7 linked regions of the Homo sapiens genome follow. The protein of the gene in region 4 purifies or fractionates together with the protein of the main gene of each other region. This does not show direct contact. Each region holds a gene or a part of one and is shown on either strand. Other genes may lie near its edges.

What was found.
Region 1: the proteins of ZNRD2 (region 4) and SBF1 purify together in Homo sapiens (co-immunoprecipitation; 3 studies listed by BioGRID and IntAct, with this or other methods). This does not show direct contact.
Region 2: the proteins of ZNRD2 (region 4) and MTG1 purify together in Homo sapiens (co-immunoprecipitation; 3 studies listed by BioGRID and IntAct, with this or other methods). This does not show direct contact.
Region 3: the proteins of ZNRD2 (region 4) and PLEKHA5 purify together in Homo sapiens (co-immunoprecipitation; 3 studies listed by BioGRID and IntAct, with this or other methods). This does not show direct contact.
Region 5: the proteins of ZNRD2 (region 4) and SNX33 purify together in Homo sapiens (co-immunoprecipitation; 3 studies listed by BioGRID and IntAct, with this or other methods). This does not show direct contact.
Region 6: the proteins of ZNRD2 (region 4) and ARHGEF39 purify together in Homo sapiens (co-immunoprecipitation; 3 studies listed by BioGRID and IntAct, with this or other methods). This does not show direct contact.
Region 7: the proteins of ZNRD2 (region 4) and FAM120A purify together in Homo sapiens (co-immunoprecipitation; 3 studies listed by BioGRID and IntAct, with this or other methods). This does not show direct contact.

Annotation. Positions count from the first base shown.
Region 1 is NC_000022.11:50,461,536-50,465,035, forward strand, and holds part of SBF1 (myotubularin-related protein 5), read right to left. Parts: coding exon 3,466-3,500; intron 3,383-3,465; coding exon 3,284-3,382; intron 3,204-3,283; coding exon 2,999-3,203; intron 2,907-2,998; coding exon 2,794-2,906; intron 1,898-2,793; coding exon 1,748-1,897; intron 1,404-1,747; coding exon 1,335-1,403; intron 1,183-1,334; coding exon 1,024-1,182; intron 939-1,023; coding exon 670-938; intron 585-669; coding exon 412-584; intron 335-411; coding exon 261-334; intron 184-260; coding exon 1-183. UniProt on the Homo sapiens protein: Acts as an adapter for the phosphatase MTMR2 to regulate MTMR2 catalytic activity and subcellular location. Promotes the exchange of GDP to GTP, converting inactive GDP-bound Rab proteins into their active GTP-bound form.
Region 2 is NC_000010.11:133,397,157-133,400,656, reverse strand, and holds part of MTG1 (mitochondrial ribosome-associated GTPase 1), read right to left. Parts: intron 2,223-3,500; coding exon 2,142-2,222; intron 1,488-2,141; coding exon 1,431-1,487; intron 1,129-1,430; coding exon 1,038-1,128; intron 1-1,037. UniProt on the Homo sapiens protein: Plays a role in the regulation of the mitochondrial ribosome assembly and of translational activity. Displays mitochondrial GTPase activity.
Region 3 is NC_000012.12:19,373,817-19,376,900, forward strand, and holds the end of PLEKHA5 (pleckstrin homology domain-containing family A member 5), read left to right. Parts: intron 1-1,714; coding exon of another isoform or gene 1,715-1,749; 3' UTR 1,750-2,584; downstream 2,585-3,084.
Region 4 is NC_000011.10:65,569,243-65,572,388, reverse strand, and holds ZNRD2 (protein ZNRD2), read right to left. Parts: upstream 1,913-3,146; 5' UTR 1,898-1,912; coding exon 1,879-1,897; exon of another isoform or gene 1,786-1,878; coding exon 1,634-1,785; intron 1,504-1,633; coding exon 1,419-1,503; intron 999-1,418; coding exon 655-998; 3' UTR 501-654; downstream 1-500. UniProt on the Homo sapiens protein: Might play a role in mitosis. Antigenic molecule. Could be a centromere-associated protein. May induce anti-centromere antibodies.
Region 5 is NC_000015.10:75,654,412-75,657,911, forward strand, and holds part of SNX33 (sorting nexin-33), read left to right. Parts: intron 1-2,550; coding exon 2,551-2,804; 3' UTR 2,805-3,500. UniProt on the Homo sapiens protein: Plays a role in the reorganization of the cytoskeleton, endocytosis and cellular vesicle trafficking via its interactions with membranes, WASL, DNM1 and DNM2. Acts both during interphase and at the end of mitotic cell divisions.
Region 6 is NC_000009.12:35,662,396-35,666,501, reverse strand, and holds the start of ARHGEF39 (rho guanine nucleotide exchange factor 39), read left to right. Parts: upstream 1-1,306; 5' UTR 1,307-1,332; coding exon 1,333-1,470; intron 1,471-1,651; coding exon 1,652-1,746; intron 1,747-2,009; coding exon 2,010-2,130; intron 2,131-2,375; coding exon 2,376-2,494; intron 2,495-3,109; coding exon 3,110-3,180; intron 3,181-3,427; coding exon 3,428-3,556; intron 3,557-3,760; coding exon 3,761-3,990; intron 3,991-4,106. UniProt on the Homo sapiens protein: Promotes cell proliferation.
Region 7 is NC_000009.12:93,514,185-93,517,684, reverse strand, and holds part of FAM120A (constitutive coactivator of PPAR-gamma-like protein 1), read right to left. Parts: intron 2,019-3,500; coding exon 1,918-2,018; intron 1,703-1,917; coding exon 1,416-1,702; intron 1-1,415. UniProt on the Homo sapiens protein: Component of the oxidative stress-induced survival signaling. May regulate the activation of SRC family protein kinases. May act as a scaffolding protein enabling SRC family protein kinases to phosphorylate and activate PI3-kinase.

The sequences.
Region 1 (3,500 bases), on a different chromosome or scaffold from region 4:
GGGCATCCCCGTGAAGATGACCCGGTACGTGGTGAGGAAGACGGCGCCCTCAGCTGGGAGCAATGCTGGTCCCCCAGCACTGCCCCCCGCGCCCTCCTCACGCCCATCCGGCAGCAGGTAGACGCGCAGGCCGTCCAGCACACACTCCTCACCCGGCAGCAGGCGCGGCCGCAGCAGCTTGGGCTGCTCGAAAACAAGAGCAGGAGCTCAGGATGCAGCCCGGGCCTTGGGCCCCCGCAGCCCCAACGGCCCCCGCAAACCTTCTGGATGGGCGGCAGCCTCCGGCTCTCCCGCTGCACGGCCTCCAGGGTCTCGATGTGCATCTGGACAATGTCTGGGGGAAGACAGTTCTCACACTTTGTGCCCAGCCCCACCCATCCAAGGGGGAATCACCAGCCCAAACCCCCGTACCTGGCACCATGACATGCAGCCCCTTGAGGTGGTCGCTGGTGACCCCACTCTCCGTGCAGACCTTGTCCACAAAGCGGTTGATGAAGCGGACCACAGCCCCAGCTACGTCGCAGGTCTCTGCATCCTCGAAGCCGCTCTCCGTGTCATAGCTCTCGGCCACACTGCCAGCCATGCTGGGCCAGAGAAGAAACTGTGGGCATGGGCCCTGCCCACCACGGCCCCGCCTCCACTGGGCCCAACCCCCAGTCCCTGCCTCACCTGTTGGTGACCAGGCTGTTGCTGGCGCTCTCCAGGTCGCCCAGCCCGGCACGCTCCCGAAGTAGGCGGCTCTTGCTGCTGTCCAGGGGCAGGAGGAGGTAGCTCATGCGGTTGGCATAGTGGATGGCCTGGCTGAACACCGTGCTCTCCTCCTTCTGCACCAGCTCCTGCTGCTTCTCACGACTCAGAGTTGGCCACAAGCGCCGCTGCTCAGAAGCCACGTCTAGGGCAGAGCGCTCGTCCTCCTGGGAAGGTGCCTCCCCAACCTCCTGCCACGGCACCACACGCATGAGCCGGGGCCACGCTGCCCCAGCCCCTAGCCCCCAGCCCCCAGCCCAGGGAGTCCCTGCGCACCTGGGCGGGGGCCAGGTCCTCCGTGGGCTCCAGGTAGAGGGCCCGGATGTGAGTCTGCACATCCCCATAGAACATGGCCTCCCAGAACTGTGGCGTGCTCCACACCACGTGCTCCTGCACACAGCTGTATGCAAACTGCGTCACCCCCGGGCTCAGCTTCTGCAGGAGCCAGGGGAGAAGGTCAGCTGGATGCAGCCAGGAAGGGCGGCTGGGAAGGAGACCTCGGCCACCAGGAAGGGGGGCTGGGAAGGAGACCTCAGCCACCAGGAAGGGGGGGCTGGGAAGGAGACCTCAGCCATGCCAGCACTCACCCGGCAGAAGGCTGTGACCAGAGGCAGCAGAGCCGCCGCAATGCCATGCTCGTCCAGAGAAGTGCAGTCCTGCAGGTAGAGCGAGAGACCGTCAGGACCTCTCCCCTCCCAGGCAGCACTCACCTCCCACCATGCCCCCACCACCCCATAACCACCACAGACCAGCACCTGACACCCTTGGCTCCAGCTCCCCAAGGCTGCCTCAGAGGCTCAATATCAGGAGACCCCAGGCCCCAGCACCTGCCCCCAACAATGGTTCTCTCCACCCTGTTCCCTGCAGACCGAGGACCCCTGCCCACTGGCACAGGAGTCTCTTGCACCGTCTCTCCACTCTCACTCACAGACCAGGGTCTGCCCGCCTGTTCCCGCTCATGCGCCATGAGCCATGTCACTAGCAGGATAAGAGGCCTCACCTGCAGGCAGCAGTTCATCATACGGACGACAAAGTCAAACTGCTGGTGGTCCAGGACCGCACGGTTCTGCTGCACATGCAGGTGCAGCTCCTGGGCGAGGCAGCGGCGGGCAGCTCGCCCCTTCAGGGCCCTCAACACGGCTGGGAGCAGCTGGGGGTGGGGAAAGGAGACACGGGCTGAGGGCACAGAGAAGACCCACTCGGGGCCCTGGCAGGGAGGGCAGCAGGTGTCCAGGAGACCCAAATGCCTTTCAGGTGGGGTGTGCCAGACTCTGGGGCTTTGCCGACCAATAAAGACTAAAACCTCCAGTGGGCCCGACAACTCCACAAGTACAAGTTCACCAGGCCAGACACAAGGACGCAGATGCTGCACCTGTGAGCTGGCAGGGAGGTGCGCTCCGGAGGGAGGCCTTGCGGGCCGGGCCCCCTTGCTCACAGGCTCACAGCTGCCTGGCTGGCTCAGTGACTCGCCTGGCACAGGCCCGGCCACAGAAAGCCTTGGAGTTTGCGTTCTATTGCTACAACGTTCATCACAAAACTGGCCGCCCCAAAGGGACACCATACAGCCAATGAAAAACAAGAGTCTCCAACTGGCCATGATGAAAGACCCCAGAGGCGTTAAGTGAGCACCACAGAGAGCAAAACAGCAGGAGCAAAAAGCTCTGTTTCCATAAGATGCAAGGAACAGGTCACGTATGGAGGGAGCAAGCTCTGTTTTCCATCAAGTACAAAGAACAGGTCGTGTATGGGCCTACCCAATTTAAGGGGAAGGACACAGACGAAACATAATAGTGAAACCTTCTGATTTCTAAAAATGGAAGTACATCTCCCTGGCTGGGTCTCCCGCGCAGGCCCGACCCACCCCTCACTGAGGTCAAGAGAGGAGACCTGGAGCCCACCTACCCTCCGGCCAGCCCAGCCACCTCTAGCTGTCTGTTAGGCAGAGGAGGCCCTGGGGCAGCGTCAGCACTCACAAGGGTGAAGTGCAGCCTGGGTCTCCTCTGAAACCCGCTGCCCTGGCCCGGCTGGAGCCTGCACAGCCCTCACCTTCTTGGCCTCAAGCATTTTCCCCTCAAACACGTAGGAGATGCAGTTGCGCACAACCTCCAGCCGCCGGGCGCTGTTGACATGCAGCCCACTGCACCGCTCCAGTATGGCAGCTGCGGGGACAGAATACACACACTCGGACCCCTGACCCCACGCCCATCCTGGGCCACGCTCGGGGCCTGCCTTCCCCTCCCTCATTACGCACTCATGGGGGGCCCTGAGGGCACGGTGGTCCTCCTCTCGGCCTTCACAGCTGGGGGTGCACCCTGCATCTTGGCTGCAGCCTGGTCCACGATCCACTGCACGGTGCCCTCATCCAGCCGGGGGAAGGGTCGGGGCACCCGTCGCAGGTGGCTGCTCTCACCGGGCCTCTGTACCTTGTGCATCGCCACGGCTGGGTACGGGTTCTCCTGTGGGGAGACGGCAGGTGTGGGGCAGGGGCCCAGGGATCAAGGCGGTACGACGCCCTCCCGTCCTGCTACCCTCGTACGTTCTTGTAGAGCTGCTCTGCCAGTTCCTGGACGTGACGCAGGACACGCTGGGGGTGGTTCTCATCCGCCCGCATCCTTGCCACCTCGTGGGCCACCAGCTAGCGGGGTAAGCAGGAGGTTAGGTAAGCCATGGTCAGGCGGAGCCAGGGCAGGGGGCTGGGAGGGCAGGGTGGAGGTGCACCTCATCGAACAGGTCCGTAGGGCGGTATGGGACCC
Region 2 (3,500 bases), on a different chromosome or scaffold from region 4:
TAAAAAATAATACGCTTAAAAATAAACTTAAAAGAATAAATGACTGTAACAATGCTCCAATTAGCACCAAAAACACCCTCTCTGTAAAATAACAGTTCACCGTAGTTTAAAGCCTTCAGATTTGCACATCATGAATGGGTTTGTTAATAAATGCCTTATTAATATGAAAAATGAAGCCAACAAGGACTTGAATTAAACTTGAAAATACTTAAGGAAAAGAGCCCACGGGGCAGTGAAGGGTGCTCGGGGCTCCTGCTTTGAATCAGAGTCTGAGAACAGGCACAGAGGGAGGAAAGGAGCGCCTGCGACTCCGGAGTCCAGGAACCCTCCAGCAAAGGCAAGGCGGACGCCATGGAGGAATGGCCTTGCAGCCTCCCTGCCTGATAATCCAGCCCCGTCTACTTCACACGCTTTGTATTCTCTGGATCAAAGGGATTTTTTTTCTTTTCTTTTCTTTTTTTTTTTGAGACGGAGTCTCGCTCTGTCGCCCAGGCTGGAACGCAGTGGCACAATCTCAACTCACTGCAAGCTCCGCCTCCCGGGTTCACGCCATTCTCCTGCCTCAGCCTCCTAAGTGGCTGGGACTACAGGTGCCCGCCACCACACCCACCTAATTTTTCGTATTTTTAGTAGAGACGGGGTTTCACCGTTTCAGCAAGAATGGTCTCAATCTCCTGACCTCATGATCCGCCCGCCTCGGCCTCTCAAAGTGCTGGGATTACAGGCGTGAGCCATGCACCCGGCCAAAGGGATTTAAATAAATGAACAAATATCAAAGTTTAGAAAAGCCATCTTCATGTTAAAGATTTTAAAAGAGAGAAAAATTAAGTGTGAAATTCACAGAACGACCTGGTCCCACTGTTCAGCCCTCCTGTGAACTGGACTGAACGAGACAAGATGTGCTCTGGGGCTGCGGGGTCAGCAGAAGACTGGCAGTGCTCCTCGGGCACGTCCCCTCCAAGAAAGATGGTGGCATCAGCACATCAGCCACACGCGCCAGTACCTTTCCTGAGGTGATCAGCCGCACGCGCCAGTACCTTTCCTGAGGTGCTGCCTCCGGAGGGAGTTGATGAGGGAGGACTTGCCCACGTTGGGGACCCCAATGACCATGATACAGTACTCCAGGTTCTGCGCAGGCAGAGAGAGGGGTCACAGGGCCCACCGTGGCCGCTAGAGCCTGAGACTCTGCAACCCCACCCAGGCAAGGGGACCCCAGGCCAGGTCAGCTCAGGGAAGAAGGGAGGTTAACGCCGAGGCTCTGCCCACCCAGCGGGGACGGCCTCGGCCCTTTCCACTGAAGAGAATGAGAGGACAAAGGAGGGGCCTCCCTGCCTGGGGCGCTGCGCCTTCTCCTTGGAGAGGCCAGGCAGGAGGGGCTGGCCCATCCCACGCCCGCCTCCCACTCCCAGCTCTGGGCCCCACCAACCAACCTCTTTTCGGTGGTAGCGGTGGCTTCTCCCAATCAGTTCAGTGACCATCGGGATGATCTGCAACAAACACCCACTCATGGAGCCACCCCAGGTCGGACGTCTGTGCACTGACCCGCTCCTTCTGCCACCTCAGAACAGGATTAGGGATTCCAGTGTCTCCACTTTCACATATCCGTTAGGAAAACAGAAACCTCCTATCTGGAATTCTACCCAACATTTCATAGGCAAACTGGGCGTCACCCTTCATCTGGAGGTAGCACACCAAGTATCCGGTGTTGGGAAACTGGAGTTCTGTCCAGGTCACAGATGTCAGACTGAGCTCTGGGGCCGGGGACCACCTATGCCCGTCCCCTCCCATCAAAAACAAGCAGGGCAGACCCGGGGCTTCAGTGACAGCTGTAACTACCTTTTAATGAAGAAACACATCAAGCCAGAAAATTCTACCACATACAACTGGAAACATGAGCTACCTGAGTCTCCAAAAGACTCTGACCACCTACAACCCTGGAATGCGTCTACAGCCTGACCTTGTGCCCTCAGTACAGGGAGACCCACTTGCCCCAGGAGATCGCATCCGTGTGTGGCAGCTGGAAACCAACACCTAGGATCTTTTCCAAAGCTCTGCTTCTTACTAAAGCATAAAACAGTTTATAATGCTCCTCGAACCTACTGAAGCAGAAGCGTCAGAGAGAGCACAGACGAAAAGCCTACCTGCTTGACATTTTCATCCTTTACACAGTTGGTAAAAATGACATTTTTTAGGCCTTCTCCTTCTAAGTGTTGCATAATTTTCTGAAAGACACAAAACATTTCTATGTTACTTTTTTTACTGGAGTCTTGGCTCTGTCACCCAGGCTGGAGTGCAGTAGCACAATCTCGGCTCCCTGCAACCTCCGCCTCCCTGGTTCAAGCGATTCTCATGCCTCAGCCTCCCAAGTAGCAGGGATTACAGGCATGCGCCACCACGCCCAGATAATTTTTGAATTCACTGGCCTTAACATGCAGTGAAACTAGTGCAAAGCAGTATCATATTTCTAAACATCAGTGCTGTTAATCATCTGACCTAAAGTATGACTGATGTTTAAATCAACAAGTCCTTCACTGATTCAGCTGGTTTTATTTAGCTGTCCACGAAGATGACACGGATGGAGAGATCAAACATAAGACACACACCTGAAGCCACACACTCTGGGTAGTAAATGTACTTGGGTGTCCCTGCTCAGGGAGGCAGAAGGCAGGGCCACCCAGGGGCAAGTCTACCTCTCTCCCGATTCTTCAGAAGCACTGGCCTTTCTCTGACCAGGTCAGACACTGCTGTGCCCTATACTAGACGGCCACCCACCAGTCTACAAAAAGTCACATTTTCAAAGGCAGGAGTTGCCACTGATATGACGTAAAAGTACCAACTAGTGAAAACACTTGCGATGATTTAAAAAAAAAAAAAAAACAGGCTGGACGCAGTGACTCACGCCTGTAATACCAGCACTTTGGGAGGCCGAGGCGGGCGGATCATGAGGTCAGGAGATTGAGACCATCCTGGCTAACACAGTGAAACCCCGTCTCTACTAAAGATACAAAAAATTAGCCGGGCATGGTGGCGGGCGCCTGTAGTCCCGGCTGCTCAGGAGGCTGAGGCAGGAGAATGGCGTGAACCCGGGAGGCAGAGCTTGCAGTGAGTCAAGATTGCGCCACTGCACTCCAGCCTGGGCGACAGAGCAAGACTCTGCCTCAAAAAAAAAAAAAGAAAATAAGACACAAGACAAAGAGATAAAAGAAAAGACAGCTGTGCCTGGGGGACCACTACCACCAAGATGCAGAGACCGGTAGTGGCCCCAAATGTCTGGCTGCACTAATATTTATTGGATACAAAGCAAAAGGGGCAGGGTAAGGAGTGTGAGCCATCTCCAATGACAGGTAAGGTCACGTGGGTCATGTGTCCACTGGACAAGGGGCCCTTCCCTGCCTGGCAGCCAAGGCAGAGAGAGAGGGAGAAAGAGAGACAGCTTACGCCATTATTTCTGCTTATCAGAGACTTTCGGTACTTTCACTAATTTTGCTACTGCTATCTAA
Region 3 (3,084 bases), on a different chromosome or scaffold from region 4:
TAATATTTTGATTCAATAAACAGATTATGACTGTACACATATCCTTCCAATAATAAAGGATATTCAGAGTTAAAACTCAAGTATATTTCCAGGTTCCTTAAATTGTTATAGGATTTTATTTTGTTTTCTTCTTATTCCAAGAGCAGTGGCATACTGTAATGAGGTATGATTATTGTCGGATATTTTCTAGTCTCATGGTATGCAACTACCACAAATAACTAAAGGCATGAAAACTTGTATTATTTCATATCTTCCTATTATGCATATGCCATCTTTCTGAACTAGTGGTTTTGGCAGGATTTAGGAAACCTTTACAAATGACACTACGATGTAGGCAGCTCAATAATTATTACGTATTTTAGTGGAGTTATGCAAATGTTTGCTCATTTTGTTGATCTTTTGGATTCAGCTACGTTTGGTACTTTTTTTTTTTTTTTGCAGTTGCAAGATTTAATAGAGTGAAAACAGAGCTCCCCTAAAATGGGAGGGGACCCAAAGGGGGTTGCCGTTGCCAGCGGTACATTTTTTATTCTGTATTGCTATTTATAATCACATTATGTTGGCCGGGCACAGTGGCTCACGGCTGTAATCCCAACACTTTGTGAGGCCGAGGCGGGCGGAACACAAGGTCAGGAGATCGAGACCATTGTGGCCAACATGGTTGAAACTCCGTCTCTACTGAAAATACAAAAATTAGCTGGGCGTGGTGGCATGCACCTGTAGTCTCAGCTACTCTAGAGGCTGAGGCAGGAAAATCACTTGAACCCGGGAGGTGGAGGTTGCAGTGAGCCAAGATTGCGCCACTGCACTCCAGCCTGGGCGACAGAGCGAGACTCAGTCTCAAAAATAATAAGAAGGCCAGGTGCAGTGGCTCACACCTGGAATCCTAGCACTTTGGGAGGCCGAGGCGGGCGGATTGCCTGAGTTCAGGAGTTTGAGACCAGCCTGGGCAACACGGTGAAACCCCGTCTCTACTAAAATACAAAAAATTAGCTGGATGTGGTGATGTGCACCTGTAGTCCCAGCTACTCAGGAGGCTGAGGCAGGAGAATTGTTGGAACCCAGGAGGCAGAGGTTGCAGTGAACTGAGATCGTGCCACTGCACTCCACCCTGGGCAACAGAGCAAGACTCCGTCTCCAAAATGATGATAATAATAATAATAATGAAGAGAAGGAGGAGGAGGAGGAAGGAAGAAGAATTGCATTACATTATGTTTCCTTGTGGGGCCGGGTATAGTGGCTCATGCCTGTAATCCTAGCACTTTGGGAGGCCAAGGCAGTCAGATCAGTTGAGGCCAGGGGTTCGAGACCAGCCTGGCCAACATGGTGAAACCCCGTCTCTACTAAAAATACAAAAATTAGCCAGGCATGGTGATATGTGCCTGTAATCCCAGCTAGTTGGGAGACTGAGGCAGGAGAATCGCTTGAACCCAGGACGCAGAGGTTGCAGAGAGCCGGGATCATACCACTGCACCCCAGCCTAGGCGATAGTGATACCCTGTCTCAAAAAAAAAAAATTGCATTATGTTTCTTTGCTTTGTGAATTAAGCTATGGAAATGAAGAAAAATATCCTTTGATGTATTGTATTTTAGGATTTTCATGGCCATGCTTGTCAGTTCTGTTGTTACAGAATGTCACCCTTAGTTACTTTGGGAAATGGTAATTAATTAACGTTGCAGGTGTCAAAGTAATTTCCTCTCTCTTATTTTTCAGCTATACTGACTTCTGTTGAAACCATTCAAAGCTAAAGACATGGACCTTCAGCAGTGTAAGAAGATATTGTACAGTATATTTTAAATCTATGAAATTCATAGTTCTGATGCTTTTGGTCACAGAGCATCATTTTATCACTTCTGGAAAATGTTTATTCCAAAACAGCTTTAATGGCCCATATGTACACTTCGTAATCTCAAGGTTATTATTCTGACACCAGCTTGCTGCTATGATTTCAGAGCACATAAGTAAAGGTGCTTTTTAATGTGCAGTCTATTTCCAGAGCTTACTTAGTTGCTGATTTCCAGATTTCGATGTTTCTTAAGTCTAGGTGAATTTATATATATATTTTTTTGCTTTTCATTTTCTAAAGTTAGTTATTATTTCCATTGAAGCTTGTTTTCTTTTTTTTCTTCCCATTTTAGCTACTGCAGTGCTTTTGTTTCACACTTGATTTGTAAAAATTTTATATATATGTATTTAAAATGTGCCATTTTATTGCTAAGTGAAGTATGTCCTGTTTTCTGCTATAATTCTTTCTCGGTCAGATTGCAATGTCAGCAGTTACTGCCACACTCCTGTCAGCTTAAACACAAATGTTACTGCTTATCTTTTCTTAAAAAAAAAAAAAACAAAGTGTAGGTATTTTGAAGTACTGGGCTTATATTTCATTGGAATACATGTGTACAGCAATAAGCAGGTTTCCAAATCCGGTACTTAGTTTGTGTACAAATGTAATTATGTTCATTGTGTATATATTATACAATGAGCACATGTAATGTATTAAAGGCTACTTACTATTGTTTAAATGCAAATGTTCATATCTCATTTCTTTTTTTATCATGTTAAATAAATGTTGATGTTCTTAAATCAGTGTTAGAATTTTTGTTCTTTCCATCCAAAATTGAAAGTCTTAAGACTCAAGAGACCTCTAGAAGAAAAGGTACTCTGTTAATTTTATAATCCTAGACAACATCTTAAAAGATCCTTGTCGGTCCAACCCTCCCATGTCAAAGTTGAGGACCTTGAGGCTCAAAGAGATCAATTGAGTTGGCCACAATTTAATGACAGAATTTTGACCAGACTATAGTTTTTTCTGACTTTTTCTCTAAGTACATTACATTAGCTCATTACCACTAGAGGAGTTTAGTTTTGTGAAGTCTTTTACCACGTTTCTATTTGCTTCCATGTTTCAGAAAGTAACTTCAAGCATCAGTAGTCCTGCTCTGTTTAGGGATTGGACTTTGAGAGAGGTGTGTAAGGCAGCTGTTTGTCTGACATGGGTAGCTAGAAACCGTTTCATCGTAAGTAGGACCCTCAGAGATCATTTTCTCTTACAATACATTCTTTGCAGATGTTCACGCTCTTCA
Region 4 (3,146 bases):
CGGAGGGGGGAAAAGGCTGAAGGGGGCAGGCGTGGTTTCTTCACGGTTCTTTTTGCTACCCCGTCTCCCCGCCGCGCCCCGCCCCGCCCCCACACCCAAGGAAAATGATCTAACAGTGGAGTCAGGAGACTGGCAAGTCCACACTTGGTGCCTAACGTGCCACCTGACGCTGGGGTCACCACAAACTCCTGTCGGTGTCTGAGTACCTGGGGTGGGCATGAGATGGGATAGGCTGATAGGGTCAGGATGCTCAGGGGAAGGAGGGGAATCTATCAAGGGGATCGGAACACAAAACCTCACTTCCAGGTGGGGAATGGACACCAGATGGCGGAAGAGGCTGCAGAGGTGCTGCCAGAGACAAGGCTAGGGTCCACCCCTCTGGCTGCTACCTTTGAAAAGGCTATGGCTTCTTCCTTAGAAAAGGGGCATCACATAGTCCTCTACCTACTCCCTCATCCTGACTGGGGAAACTGAGAAGAAACAAGCTCAACTCATCTCAGGGCGTCAAGGAGAGCAGAGTGGAGAGGTGAAGAGGCCAAAAGCTGGAAAAAGGTGAGTGGAGCTGGGGCTGGCATGCACACTTGGAACCAGGAAAAAAACAAACCACACAGAGGAACAGCTGTTTTTCTAGAGGGTTTTTCTCAGGGGCTTCTCTTAGTGCTGTAGCTGCTGCAGGCTGCGCAGGGCCTCCGCACATGCGCGGATAAGGCCACACAGCTGGATGCTAGTCTCCAGGGAGGTGCTAGAGCCCAGTTCAGCAGAGGCCCAGGTCAGCTTCTGCAAGAGGGCTGTCTGTGTGCAGGCCATGACATCTGTATTTGGAGGCACAGCAGGAGCAGGTGGCCCCTGGGCTGCCTTGAGTCCTGCTGCAGCTCCCTCACAGTGCTCCGGACGAGGTACTGGGGGCTGGGGCGCAGGTCGAGAGCCCAGGGGGAGCTCTGAGGCTGAGGCCAGCTGGTGCTCCCGAGCTTGGGAGAGGGCAGCCTGGGCATTCAGAGCTAAAAAGAGGAGAAAGTGGGTGGAATGGTCAGGATGCCTGGCCCACCTCAGCCCTGAGCCATCTCCTTTTCTGCTCTGCTCTTTCTGTGCTTGAGGTGTTTTCCCTGTCCCTCTATAAGGCAACTCATCCACTTTCTACTTTGTATCACATTTATGCCCTAGCTTCAATTCTCCATCAGTACTGGGCCTGGTTGAGCTCAGACTCTCGCGCAGTGGCTGGCACACAGGAGGTGCTTGGTGCTCTTATTGAGTTAAGGGTCCTCTTTAGAGCCTAAAGGAGAAATAATTTTACTTCTACCCCACCCAGAGACTCCACTGTCACCTCTCAGCCCTACTGTTCTCGGGCCTCTATCACCACTTAACCACGCTTCCCCCCTAAGCATATCCGGCCCCTCTCCCGGATTATTTTTTACTCTTACCGGGATTATCTTTATCCACGTCTGAGTCGAGTTCCTGACAAGCCACGCAGTAGATTTTCCGCTGTTTGTCTTGGAGGAGGATCGTCTACGGACCAAAAAGCACACGGGGCCGGAATGAGACGCCGGCAATGGGGTCCAGAGGGGAGGGCCGGGGAAGGGCTGAGTGGCCTGGCCCGCGGACCCATCCCCGGTCACTCGCCCGAGTCTCGCCTCACCCCGCAGTCCGCACACGTCTCGCCCAGCATGCGGTAACCGCGCAGCAGATAGTCGCCCATGAGCCGGGAGATGCGATCTTGCCGCTCCCGTCGCGCCTGCAGCACCTTCGTCTCCGCCTCAGTCGGGGGCTCCCAGGAGAAGTCGTCGACTTCTGGGGAAGAGAGGCATAGGGACTGGGGGTCTTGCCGGAGTGGGCTGCCTCCCGTACCTCACAGCCACAAACCCCTGCCGCCCAGGTCCTCACCAGCTCCGTTCAGGGCCATGTTGCCGTTGTCACCGCCGGGCTCACAGGAAGTGACGTCAAAGCGGAGCGCCCTCCGCTGCGGCTCCGCCCGTTCCATAGCTGCCGCGGATCAGGGCGGACGTGACGCCTTAGCGTGGTCCTCAGACCTCGCTGTGCCCGGGGTGGGGCGTGTCGGCTGCTACCGAGAACCTGCTCGGGGGACGCGTCCGTCAACCGGAATCCAGGGGACAGAAGCTTCCGACGCGCGAGGCCTCGGGAGGAGCGTCTCCTTGGTAACTCTCCTCCGGTCGCAAGACCTGGAAGTGGCCTCAGGGGGTCGCCCTTCCTGTCCGTCGTGGATGAAGGGGACCACTTGGCTTCAGAAATCCCCGCTGGCCTCCGCCTCCCCTGGGGTTTCCCTTTCGGCGCAGGCGGGGCAGCGGCGTCATCACAACCATCGCCACCCCAGTAATCACAGCGAGCGGCCCTTTGCGCACGCGTGGAGCCTTCTCAGGCCTCAGTACTTCTCACTTCGCCCGGCAAGGCTGGCCAGGAGGGGTGCATTCTCCCTTTCCGCGTATTTCAAGACCACTCCCCTTCTGCATGCTCGGTGTCCCAGTCTGTCTCCTCGCTGCCTCCCGAGGCCTGGAACTGAAGCAAAGTTCGCCCCGAAGCCGACCGTTCTTTGAAGTTGAAATCCTCAAAAAGCCTGCAGACTGAATAGCGCTGTACTGGGCACGCGCATTGCGCTTCCAGCCGCCCTTGGGTGCTGCGTGCTGGGCCGGGTCGGGTTGGGGCCTTCCTACATACTCTTGCGACCATTAGGCTCTTCTTGGGTGAGTTGCAAGTTAAAATTACCAGGGCTCTCTGAACATGGACCTTGGTGCTTTTTTTCTCTCTCCCTCTTCCGTGTTCTTTTTCAAACGCATCTTCTCCCTTATTAGATTCAGAGAAGCCAGACAGGGCAGGCAGGGGTCCTCAGATGTGCAGTCTGCAGGGCCTGAGGTTGTACACCAGGGCAGTGGAAAAGCAGCTAGGACTTGGACTTTCACAGTTACATCGACATTCTCCTCTTCCGGATGGCACATGCCCCCTCAATCTGACCTGAAGTCCCTTCCTCCTGGCCCCCTCTTCCTTCCACGTAGAACCCCTGGAACTGTCATTCTTGCTGCCTCCTGCTTACGTGGAGAGCCCTGTGTCCCTTTCACATCTCCATCTACCAGTCAGGCTCTTGGGCAGCAGCGTACCTGACTTAGGGCCTGTACCACAAGTCGTTTCTATCAGGCTGA
Region 5 (3,500 bases), on a different chromosome or scaffold from region 4:
CAGACCTCCTGCTCCCTCCTGCCCCCAACCTGGGGTGGATGTTAACTGTCTCCAAGAGGCAGGGGCAAGATGGATTGAGGTGGGAGCTTAGGGAATATCCCTGGGACTTGCAGCTGGTGGGCTCCAACCCTCCTTTCTGCATTTTTGGGACCCAGCCTGTAAGAGGAGTGCTGAGGCAGGAGGTCCCCCTGGGTCCTCAGCTCTCAGGTTAAGTCTTAAGTAGAATGTCGGGGGGATGCTGGACAGGCCTGAGCCCTGACTCCCAGCCTGTGGGGTGGGGTGCATTAGCATTAGCTGGTCCTGGCCCCAGAGCTGAGTCACAGGGTGGAGGGGTAACGGAGAACAGGGTGGGGCCTCTGTTTCCCCCCGACCTCTGCAGCCTTTGCTCCCCATCCCTGGCCTCCTGCCTGTCTGTGGATACCTAACCATTGCAATGGGTTCATTCTTACTCTTTGGGCTCCTCATCAGCAAAAGAGGCCTTTCCTTCCTCTAAGGCCATGGACAGGAAAAGTCTATAGATGCACTTCCACTGTGCCAACTTTCTCGGCAGGTGGAATCCAGGCTAGTTCAGTATCTCCTCTTTAGCTAGGTTCCTTCTGCGGAAGTTTAACTCCAGTTTCTTCACCCTGCTGTTTTCTACCTTTCTTCTTACGGTTCTTCCTACTCCTTGGGACCTTCTTGAATCCCTGTGTCCAACGTCTGGGGGCCCCACACATATGCCTGAAGGACCTGGCATGGGCTCCCTGCAGCAGAAGTGGTGTCCGACCCCCAGCTGTGGAGGACCAGGCAGGAAAGAGGCTGGGAGTCCTGGGCAAGTTCCTGCCCCTCAGGGCCTTGGCCTCCTCTGTACAGTAGTAGGATGGAGGTGGAATCGAGGGTTGGACACCTGATCTTTTGGGCCTTTCTAGCTCTGAAGTCTCTTACTGGGTCCTATCCTGGGCCTTGGGGTGATCCCCCTTCTGCTGCCCAGGGCTGGGCTGTTGAGATGGTGCAGGAGGTGGTCCAGGGAAGGTGGCAGAAGGACTGAGTGGGCTGGGAGCTGGGGAATGCAGATTTCTTTTGGGCGCTGTGTGAGCAGCCCTGGAGACTCTCTGAACTTGAGTCTGTTTGCCTGAAATGCTACTATTAGCCGATTAGCCATGCACTTATCAACTAACATGGATGTTGCCCCTTCTAAAGGCATCCAGAGTTATTCCCAGCATGTAGAGCCCTGGGCCTGATATACAGTAAGTGCTCAATGAATGCATTTAGAATGCACTGGACAATTTGAGCCAGGGAGTGAAGAGAATATTATCTAGACAGCCCTCAAGAGCCCTCCTTAAAGGAGAAGTGGGAAAGCATGGGTATTGAGCATGCTATCTGTGTGTAGTGGGTGCGTTTGCAGTGCTCAGGGGTGTGCTGTCCTCTATGCCAACCCTTCCCTGCTCCTAATCTTCTTTGTATGGTGGATTCTCTGCAGCCCTCGGCGACTGAGTGCCAGGCACAGGCAAACTTCCTTCTCTTCCCAGCAACTGTCCCCACTGGCTTAAAGGCAGAATTCGTCAAGTCCCTTTTAATTCAGAACTGAAATTCATTCACCAGCTGCTTGTTCATTCATTCAGATTCTTCTAAATTGGGTCCTCTGCCCAGGTTCATCTCCACCCCCCATCTGTCACCTGGTTATTACACAACCTCCTCGAGTTCCCTGGGGGCTGGGATGAGGAGGGAACAGGGCGTGCATGTCTGGGAGATACACCAGGTGGCCTTTGAAGAGTTGTTTTAGAATCAGCAGTGTGATGGGGGTGGGGGTGGGGAGCCAGGGCACAGGTGACATGGGAGAGACATTCTGTCAGGGGAACTGGGAGAGGCTCCAGTGTAGAAGTGGCACCTGATCGGGGCCATGAATTATGAATAGGAATCCAGGGGGCAGAGGTAGGAAGGTAGGAAAGAGCCAGGTGAGTTTGACGAACATGGGGGTCAGTGTGGAATGCGTGCAGGGGCCAACTCCCAGAGGTGAGGGCCCCCCAGGCCAGGCAGATTGGTGTGGACCTTGATCTGTAGGTAGTGGAGAGCTAGGAAAGGTGCCCAGCTTGGGATACCTCTTTAGATGCTGCAGAGAACCTGTCAGAGGCTGGGGCGGAGGGCAGGGAGACGTGGCGGGGCTGTTGTAGCAGTCCAGTGAGGGACAGGGTTGAATCAGTTCAGCAGGCCTATATCAGGATCTGCTGTGGGCCAGGCCTTGTTCTGGGTACCAGAGACACAGAGAGGTTGAGGACAGGCTCTATCCTCATTGAATTCATAGTCCATCAAGCAGGGCTGTGACTGGTCACATGTGGGCTACTGGTGGCACTGCACATTTGGAGAGAAGATGATGTGCTTGGTTTAGGAGGTGCTGAGGGTGATGGCTTGGGTAACATCCTGGCAGAGACACCCAGGTGGCTGGAATGTGGGTCTGGGGCTCAGGAATGACGTCCGAGTTGAGCTGATGAGGGTGCTGTCTGCCCTCAAGGGTACAGGGAGCACATGGAGATCAGAGCCCTCACACGCTGTCCTCTGCTCTGCCTATGCCAGGCGCCTTCGCCAAGGTGAAGGAGAGCCAACGCATGAGTGACGAGGGCCGCATGGTGCAGGACGAGGCAGACGGCATTCGCAGGCGCTGCCGCGTGGTGGGTTTCGCCCTGCAGGCCGAGATGAACCACTTCCACCAGCGCCGTGAGCTCGACTTCAAGCACATGATGCAGAACTACTTGCGCCAGCAGATCCTCTTCTACCAGCGGGTGGGCCAGCAGCTGGAGAAGACCCTGCGCATGTATGACAACCTCTGACCGCGTGTGCCTGGGCCCCCTCCTTCCCCTGGGCCTGGTCACTGCAGTGTACCCCACTTTCCCGACCTCCCTATACCAGCAGTGACTGGGGGAGGGGTCAGCGGTGGGGGAGATAAGCGGCCTGTCCTGCCTCCTGGGAGAAGGAGCTTTCAAGGAGTCATGGGTGCCCCTGGGAAATTCCCCACTCCTTAGAAGTGGGGCACAGCAGGGGTGAGAATAGAGTCAGGAGCCCTCGAGGCCAAGGCCTGGGCTGCCGGTCAGTCAGTGAAGGTCAGGCCAGGGTCTCAGCCTCCCCTAGAGCCTATTTTGCTTGCTCACCTGGCCACTGCTGCCTTATCCATTCAGCAGACACCGAGGCCTGCTGCACCCTTGGGTCGGATGCTGGGCACCCAGGGCTGTGACATGCCTGCTCTTCAGGAGTCCTCAGTGAAGGTCGGGGTCAGACACAGACAGAGTCAATGCAGTATGACTGATGTTTAAGTGAGGGATTTCTGGAAGCTCATAGAAGGGACCACAGCATTCCACTGGTCAGGGAAGACTCCATAGAGTAGGCAACATTTGGGCAGTGTTTTGAAGAATGACAAGGGCCTGCCAGACAGTACATGGGGGAGAAGGACTTTCAGGGGAGAGGAACAGCATGGGCAAAGTTATGGAGGCATGCAAACATCTCCCTCTTCTCTCCCTTACTTTCCAAGC
Region 6 (4,106 bases), on a different chromosome or scaffold from region 4:
CCATGTTTGAGCTCTTAGTGTGTGGACTGTCCCACATTCACTTGAGACAGTGTAACCAGTCCTTTACCTATCTGGTATCACCACCAGTTTCCTTGGGACATAAGCCCAAGGTACAGTCTGATCCAAACTCTCCCCTTCCTTCATCCAAGCCCTTCAAGTTATTCCTCCCTGGTCTAAGCCCAGCATTATTCCTTTCTTAGAATTCTTAGAATGTCAGAGCTGGTGGGGAGGTGGTAGAGACCTCAGAACCCTGACAATCCTCTGGTTCTTGGCTTGCGGCCCAGATTCCTAGGAGTCCAAAACAGTAGGGAGGGAGCCTAAAGTTTCTGACATTTTGTTTTTTTTAATAACTTTTTTTTTCTAACTACAAAGTAATGCATGCTTAATGTAGAAAACTTGGGAAAGGCAGAAGTATAAGAGAATTTTTAAAATCACCCTGTTTGTCCCATTCATCCCTTTAGCTTCAGTGATCCAGTGCCTGGCACAGATACAGATTAGGTACTTAATACACATTTGTTAAACACATTATCTTCAATTCCATTACCCGGAGATAAAAACCACAGTTAACTTTTTATTTTTATTTTTTATTTATTTATTTTTTTTTTGGAGAGATGGAGTCTCGAACTCCTGGGCTCAGGTGATCCTCCTGCCTCTGCCTCCCAAAGTGCTGGAATTACAGGTGTGAGCTCCCGTGCCTGGCAACAGAGTTAACTTTTGATTGTTTTGCCTTCCAACATTTTATATATGTTTTATACAAAGGGGATTATATTATACACCTTTGTAGCCTGCTTTTTTTCCTCTCAGCAATATACTTACTATGTGCGTTTTCCCATATCGATAGCTTCTTTACAACACCATTTTTAATACTTTCATATCATTCCTTCAAATGGCTATACCTTTTCCTAGCCAATTCTGGGAACAACTGACCCCCTGGCATTTGGCATGGGCCCAGGACAGAATGTGTACTGTAATGACCGCCCCCCGTCCCAATTCTCCAGATAGGACATTAAGTTCCTGCCAGCATCTGCAGCCCGTCTCCTGACTCAAAGTTCAGGCTGCTGCTCCAACATAGTGCCACTCAGAGGAGGGCTCCACACCTGCCCCCAACCTTGCCCTGCCCTGCCCTGCCTTGGCCGGCGCCGCGCACCTAAAGCGCCGCTCTGGCGGTGGGGCTGGACAGAAGAGACCCTGCGCGGTCCGGCCGCTCGCCGCGCATGCTCCTTCCTGCGCGCTGCCCTCCCCGGCCCCGCCTCCGCGGCTCCCGCCCGCGAGCGGTTGGGATTTGAATCTGCCGCGGACTGCAGCCGGAAGTGTCGATCCCTCAGCCAGGGCATGGAGCTCTCCTGCCCCGGTTCGCGGTGCCCGGTGCAAGAGCAGCGTGCCCGCTGGGAGCGGAAACGCGCCTGCACCGCCCGGGAGCTGCTAGAGACCGAGCGGCGCTACCAAGAACAGCTGGGGCTGGTGGCCACGGTGGGGGACCTGGCACACGCTCCCATTATAGGACAGGGACCCCAGGGTGTGGGAGGGTCTCTGCGAGGTCGGTAACCCGGAGCATGTAGGGAGCCTGGGCAGACTTCTGCGGTTTCTGGGGGCGCTTGGCGTTAGCCTTCTCTTCCTCTAGGCTAAGAACCAATGTTCTCTCCTTCCGCAGTACTTTTTGGGGATCCTGAAAGCCAAGGGGACCCTGCGACCACCTGAGCGCCAGGCCCTGTTTGGCTCCTGGGAGCTCATCTACGGCGCCAGCCAGTGAGTGGAAGGGGCACAGGGAGAGGAAAGGAGGGAGAGTCCTGGCCTGTGGCCGTGCACAGAGCTTGGAGTCAGACTTAGGTTCTATTTGGAGTCCGCCAGTTAGCTCACCTGTGGCCTTGGCCCAGGGCCTTAGCATGCCCTTGTTCTCCATCTGTACAATGGGGTAATAGCACTACTATTAGTGCTATTCTCATGAAAACTAAATGAGGTGGTGCTTGAGTGGTTCTAGAGCTGCCCTTTTGCTGTCCTTGCCCACACAGGGAGCTGCTTCCCTACCTGGAAGGAGGATGCTGGGGCCAAGGGCTGGAGGGCTTCTGCCGCCACTTGGAGCTCTATAACCAATTTGCTGCCAACTCAGAGAGGTCCCAGACCACCCTGCAGGTAACCTGGAGATGACCTCAAATCTTGCCCCTTACCTTTCCCCTTCATCTGGAGACCCAAACTTCATACATTTCCTGCATTTATAGAGCCCTCTGGGTGCTCAGCTCTGTGGTAAGTTCCTTGTAGAGAAACGAGAGTTTCTCTCAGGAGCACAGCTTACTGAAGGCTGGGAATGTGGATACAGATGAATGCAATATAAGGAGTGGCTTCTCTCCCTGCTTCCAATCCTTTCTCCCTCACTCCAGGAGCAGCTAAAGAAAAATAAAGGTTTCCGGAGGTTTGTACGGCTTCAGGAAGGCCGCCCTGAGTTTGGGGGCCTTCAGCTCCAGGACCTGCTCCCTCTGCCTCTGCAACGGCTCCAGCAGTGAGTGAACTCTTGATTCCAGCCGCCTCTCTCTTTTAGTTTGTATGACTGCTGCCCTCAGCTTTGTGGGATGCCTTGGGGTCGATCCCAAACTCTTGCCTCGACCCTGAGCCAAATTGCTTCTAAAAACCTTTTGCAAGAGTAAATGTGAACCCATTGGAGTACCCAGGGTCTGCAGCCTGAGGCCCTCAGCTGGAACTGTGGAACTTTAAATTGAAGTGAGGGGGCCTGTACTAGGGCCTGAGGCACGGTTTCTGGAAAAGTTTCAGATGCGGGGCTGGCCTGGGTTAGAATTTCTGTCTCTGGGTTAAGCCTGAGTTAAGGGCTATAGTCAGGCTGTCTGTAGCATCCTCCTTGGGTTGATAAACTTTCATCTTCCAATCTGGCCTCCTGAAGTATGGCTAGTCTGCCAGTGACTCTTCAGTGTGGGATGGAAGAGGGCTGTGTGGTGTGAGCCTGGTTCTGAGTCCTACATGAAAGAAGGGGATACAGTAGCCAGAAGCAGATCTTTCCTGGCCTTCAATTGAAGTATGGGTAGAGGGTGATCTGCACATCAGGCAGGGGGAATTCTGCCTGGCTCTGCTTCCCCTCAGACTTCCCACTGTTGAATTCCAGGTATGAGAATCTCGTCGTAGCTTTGGCTGAAAACACAGGTCCCAACAGCCCTGACCATCAACAGCTCACACGTAGGTTCTTGCTCCTCGGCAACGCAGGCTGGAGGCTTCCTCTCCTGTATTCCTTTCTGATTCTGACCTCCAACAATGTCTGGTATGACCCTATCTTCCACTGACATGTATACAGTGTCCCTACTGCTCTGCCTTTTCTTCAAGAAGTCAGACCCTGACCCTGGTCCCTTCCAGAATAACCTCTTTCACAACCATGGCACCCAAAGTCAAAGTTGTATGGGGAGTAAGGTGGGAGATGTTATTCCAGGGGCTGCCCGACTGATAAGTGAGACTGCCCAGAGAGTCCATACTATTGGTCAGAAACAGAAGAATGACCAGCACCTTCGGCGTGTCCAGGCTCTGCTCAGTGGACGCCAGGCAAAGGGGCTGACCTCAGGTAGCTTGCCTACTTCCCCTTCAATCCTCAACTGCCCCATCTTTTATTTTTATCTAACTCCAAATGCCGACCAGCTGCTCTTTTCTTACTCACCCTTCTTCCTGTACTGACCCAGCACATAACCCCTATTTTCTCAGCCTCCCTTTCCTCTTATTCCCATGTATCTTGAAGCTGCACCAGAATAACAGCGCTCCCATCCCCCAGGGCGCTGGTTCCTACGCCAGGGCTGGCTGTTAGTGGTGCCTCCCCATGGGGAGCCTCGGCCCCGCATGTTCTTCCTCTTCACTGATGTGCTCCTCATGGCCAAGCCTCGGCCTCCACTGCACCTGCTGCGGAGTGGCACCTTTGCCTGCAAGGCCCTCTACCCCATGGCCCAGTGTCATCTCAGCAGGGTCTTTGGCCACTCAGGAGGCCCTTGTGGTGGGTTGCTCAGTGTAAGTAATAGGTGGGAACCCTAGACCCAAAATATGTCTCAGATGCTTATGGGCTGGTTTATCTCCCTGGTCTGGGTCCCTTTTCATAGGAACAGAGCCATCTACATTGAGAGAGG
Region 7 (3,500 bases), on a different chromosome or scaffold from region 4:
CTTGTTGGGGTCATAAAGCTTACTTCTTTTGCTTTTTGTCTTACTTCTTACCTATGTTTCACAGTTTAGAAAGAACATTTCTTACTAAGACAAAAACTGTATTGTACAGACACTTGGACCTTGCTGACATGAGTCACGTTTTACAACAAAATGCACATGCCTTAGAAATCTGGCACATAAGGGCTTCCAAGACCATCAAGCAGTTGTTCTCAAACTTCAGTGTGCTAAAGACTGACTGAGGTGCTTATTTAAAATGCAAATTTGGGGGCCCCAACCAGAGATTCTGATTCAATGGGTACTCAATATATTATCTTGCTAGAGGTTAATTTAAAAATTTGAATATTCAATTGCAACTCTTTACTTCATTTTAGAGTCTTGGCATTGCATATACAGCAAATAAACATTTATTAATTTTATACTTCTCTGCACATACAACAAATCAACATTTATTAATGTTATACTTCTCTGCTATAAACAGGGTATGCATCCCTGGATGGCAGAGAGTCCTTCAGTAAGCTCTGCCCTGGGTCAACAGACATTTATTCCCATTTCACAGATGGACAGAGGACAGAGAGGAAAAGATCACCTGCTTCAGGTGACACACAAGGTAAGAACTGGCATGGAAGCTGACACCTATGTCTCTTACATTTCCTACATCAGAAACAGATGTAACATCAACCAGCCCTGGTTATCTGCGCTGTAAAGTAGAGTTCACACCAAGGAAAAGGAGACACTGACTTAAAGAAAAGAAATATTCTTTCCCTGTTTTTTTTGTTTTAAACATAAGACAATTTAAAGAAAGGGAGGAGTGCAAATTAAAGATTTCCTCGATCAAATTTTAACCAACTATGTATTTGTGAACCCATTTATTCAGGGACACACAGTGTTTAAAATACTCCTCTAAGGAAACAATTCCAGCCTGGGTCTAGGCAGCTTTCTAGGGTTTTGCTTGGGCAAACAGTGTTATTTCCAAAGTGTCCTGTAACCTGCTGAGTTTAGGAGAAGGAGAGGAAATTCAGAGCTCCCTTGATCCAGGAGCCAGAAGATTAATGTTTCGGGGGTCGGCAGGGGGTTGCTGTGACGGGTGTGAGTGGCACCACACCGGACAAATGCCCCCATGTTTTGGTCATCACACAAACCAGTTCTTGTCAAATTCCTCCCCAGAAAGTTTCCTGTGGCTCCAGGCCATGGGGCTGGGATAGTGCAGATTTTAAATCATGGAAACTTCAAGAACATACCTACTCTTCCTCTCTCCTCTCTGTCCAAGGAGCCCCCATCTGAGTACAGACTGACCATCACCCACCTGCAATAAACTACATCTCTGAGCAAAACACCAGCTGGGCTGGCAGGCCAGAAGGCAGCTTCCCCAGGTCACTACCCGCCAGGAAGCACCCAGCGACCCACGCACCACTCACTTTGTCGCCCCTCCGCTGCCCTCGTCGTTGTCGGAAGATGACGATGTAGAAGAGCCAGGGAAGTAGGCGGAATCCACGTGGTTGGGGCTGCCGCTCTGGGCCGGGTTGATGGGCGAGGACCGCTCATACAGCGGCGTGTGCTTCCCTTCGTGAGGAATGTTGCTGTAGCTGTTCTGCTCCGTCAGATTCTTCCCGCTCGTGTCCAAAGTGAGAGGTGCTGGCTCAGAGAGGCTGTACGGGTATGGACCCTGGCCCGGGGCGCCCCCTGGGCTGGGCACCTGTGGGGCCTGAAGCGAAGGGCACAGGTCACGCACACGTGGCCAGCAGGACCCGACTCAGGCCCAGGCTGACGTTTCCTGGCTCATTTTTATTTCAACAAACACTGGCATCTATTTCACGTATCAATTCAAGAGGTTAGGAACTTATTTTAGCATTCGTTGAAATTCAATGCACGCACCCTGTCTGAGACCCGCCACCCGACCCAACGCAGGGAAGGCCTTACCACGGGCTTTGCTTGCAGAGAGGTCTGCGGAATGTTGAGCATCTGAGGAGGAACATGCGGCGGCACCATCCCAGGCATTCCAAACGGACCGGGTCTGGCTGCTTCACCAACACAGAAAGAAAAGAATCACACAGCTGTGAACAGAATGCGTTTTCCAGGGCATCCTGGGGGCCAGCCCATGGCGCCAGGGATCTCACCCTCACCTGGCTCAGACATCGACACCACCATGGGTCCCACTTCTCAGAAATCATTACAAATTGCCATTTCACAGTAAGGAAAACTTAATTTTATGATGCTCCATTTGATGGACTCGGGCTGGGATTCTAACTTTCCAGATTTCTCAGTGAACTTGCCATAGTGGTTCTGCTCTCGTGTACTTCCTGAGGGCCTCGGCTGTCCCTCTGCCTGCAACTTGGTGGGGATTCTCTGTAACTCAGTCTCCCTGCTCAGGGCTGCTCCTAGCCTGAGGTCTCCGTGAAACCAGAAGCCCTGGCAGGCATGAAAGGAACAAAGTCGGACCGAACAGTTTCCTTTACCTTTGTCAAGCAAGAGGACTTTTCTATTTAAAGTACATTGCAACTACCATTAGGTTCTCAGCTAACTAGTGAGTTTTTAAATATAAAAGGAATTGCTTTTCATTGTTCAGCAATTAGGTTACACATTTTAACACATATACAGGATGAGTAATTTGTGATTCTGTGTTCTCTTAAAACATAATTTCATAAACCTGCCTGATGTGTGCTGCCATGTGCTAGTCATCATTCCCACGCTACCTTGCAAAAATGAAGAAATCTGTGAGAGGACTGAAAGCCACATAGAGGAATGGCTGAAGCAGGACAGCAGGACATGGAACCAGGCCAGCCTGAAGCTGGGACAGAAGGCAGGGGCTGGAAGCCTCCCCACTCAACCTCTGGCCTCGCGCGGCCTAACTAAGCACAGGAAGAGAGCTCAGGGGCCACGTCAGCCAACAGAAGTGAATGAGTGAGTAGATGGTGCCCATAAAGGGCTGTTCCAGAGACAGCACAAGACCCGCAGTAACAAGGACCGACTGGGGCCCAAATGATATGCAGGAAGCAGGAGGACATGGGACATGGACCTCTAGGAGCTGCACTCCCTCTCAGAACACTTAGGTGCTGAGGGCCTATGATGTGTCAAGCTGAGGACTGGGCCTGGGGATGAAAGGAGCCCTGAGGCGGTTTAAGTAAGATGCACACTGCTGAAGACACAGAGAAAATAGAAAACCTGTGTGAGACACAACAGATCCACCAGGGGCTTGCACGGCTGCACCATCTCTTCCTTGGGTTTGTTTTAAATGTGGAAGAAAACCAAGCCCAGAGCTTGCTGACTCCAATTTCCCTCTTTAAGCAGTAGATATGCTTCTACAACCTCTTCATCTGAACACCAGTTGATATGGTTAGGCTGCACATCCCCACCCAAATCTCATCTTGAATTATAATCCCCATAATCCCCACGTGTCTAGGCAGAGAGACTAGGTGGAGGTAATTGGATCATAGGGGCAGTTTCTCCCATGTTCTTCTAATGATAGTGAATGAGTTCTCACAAGATCTGATGGTTGTATAAGG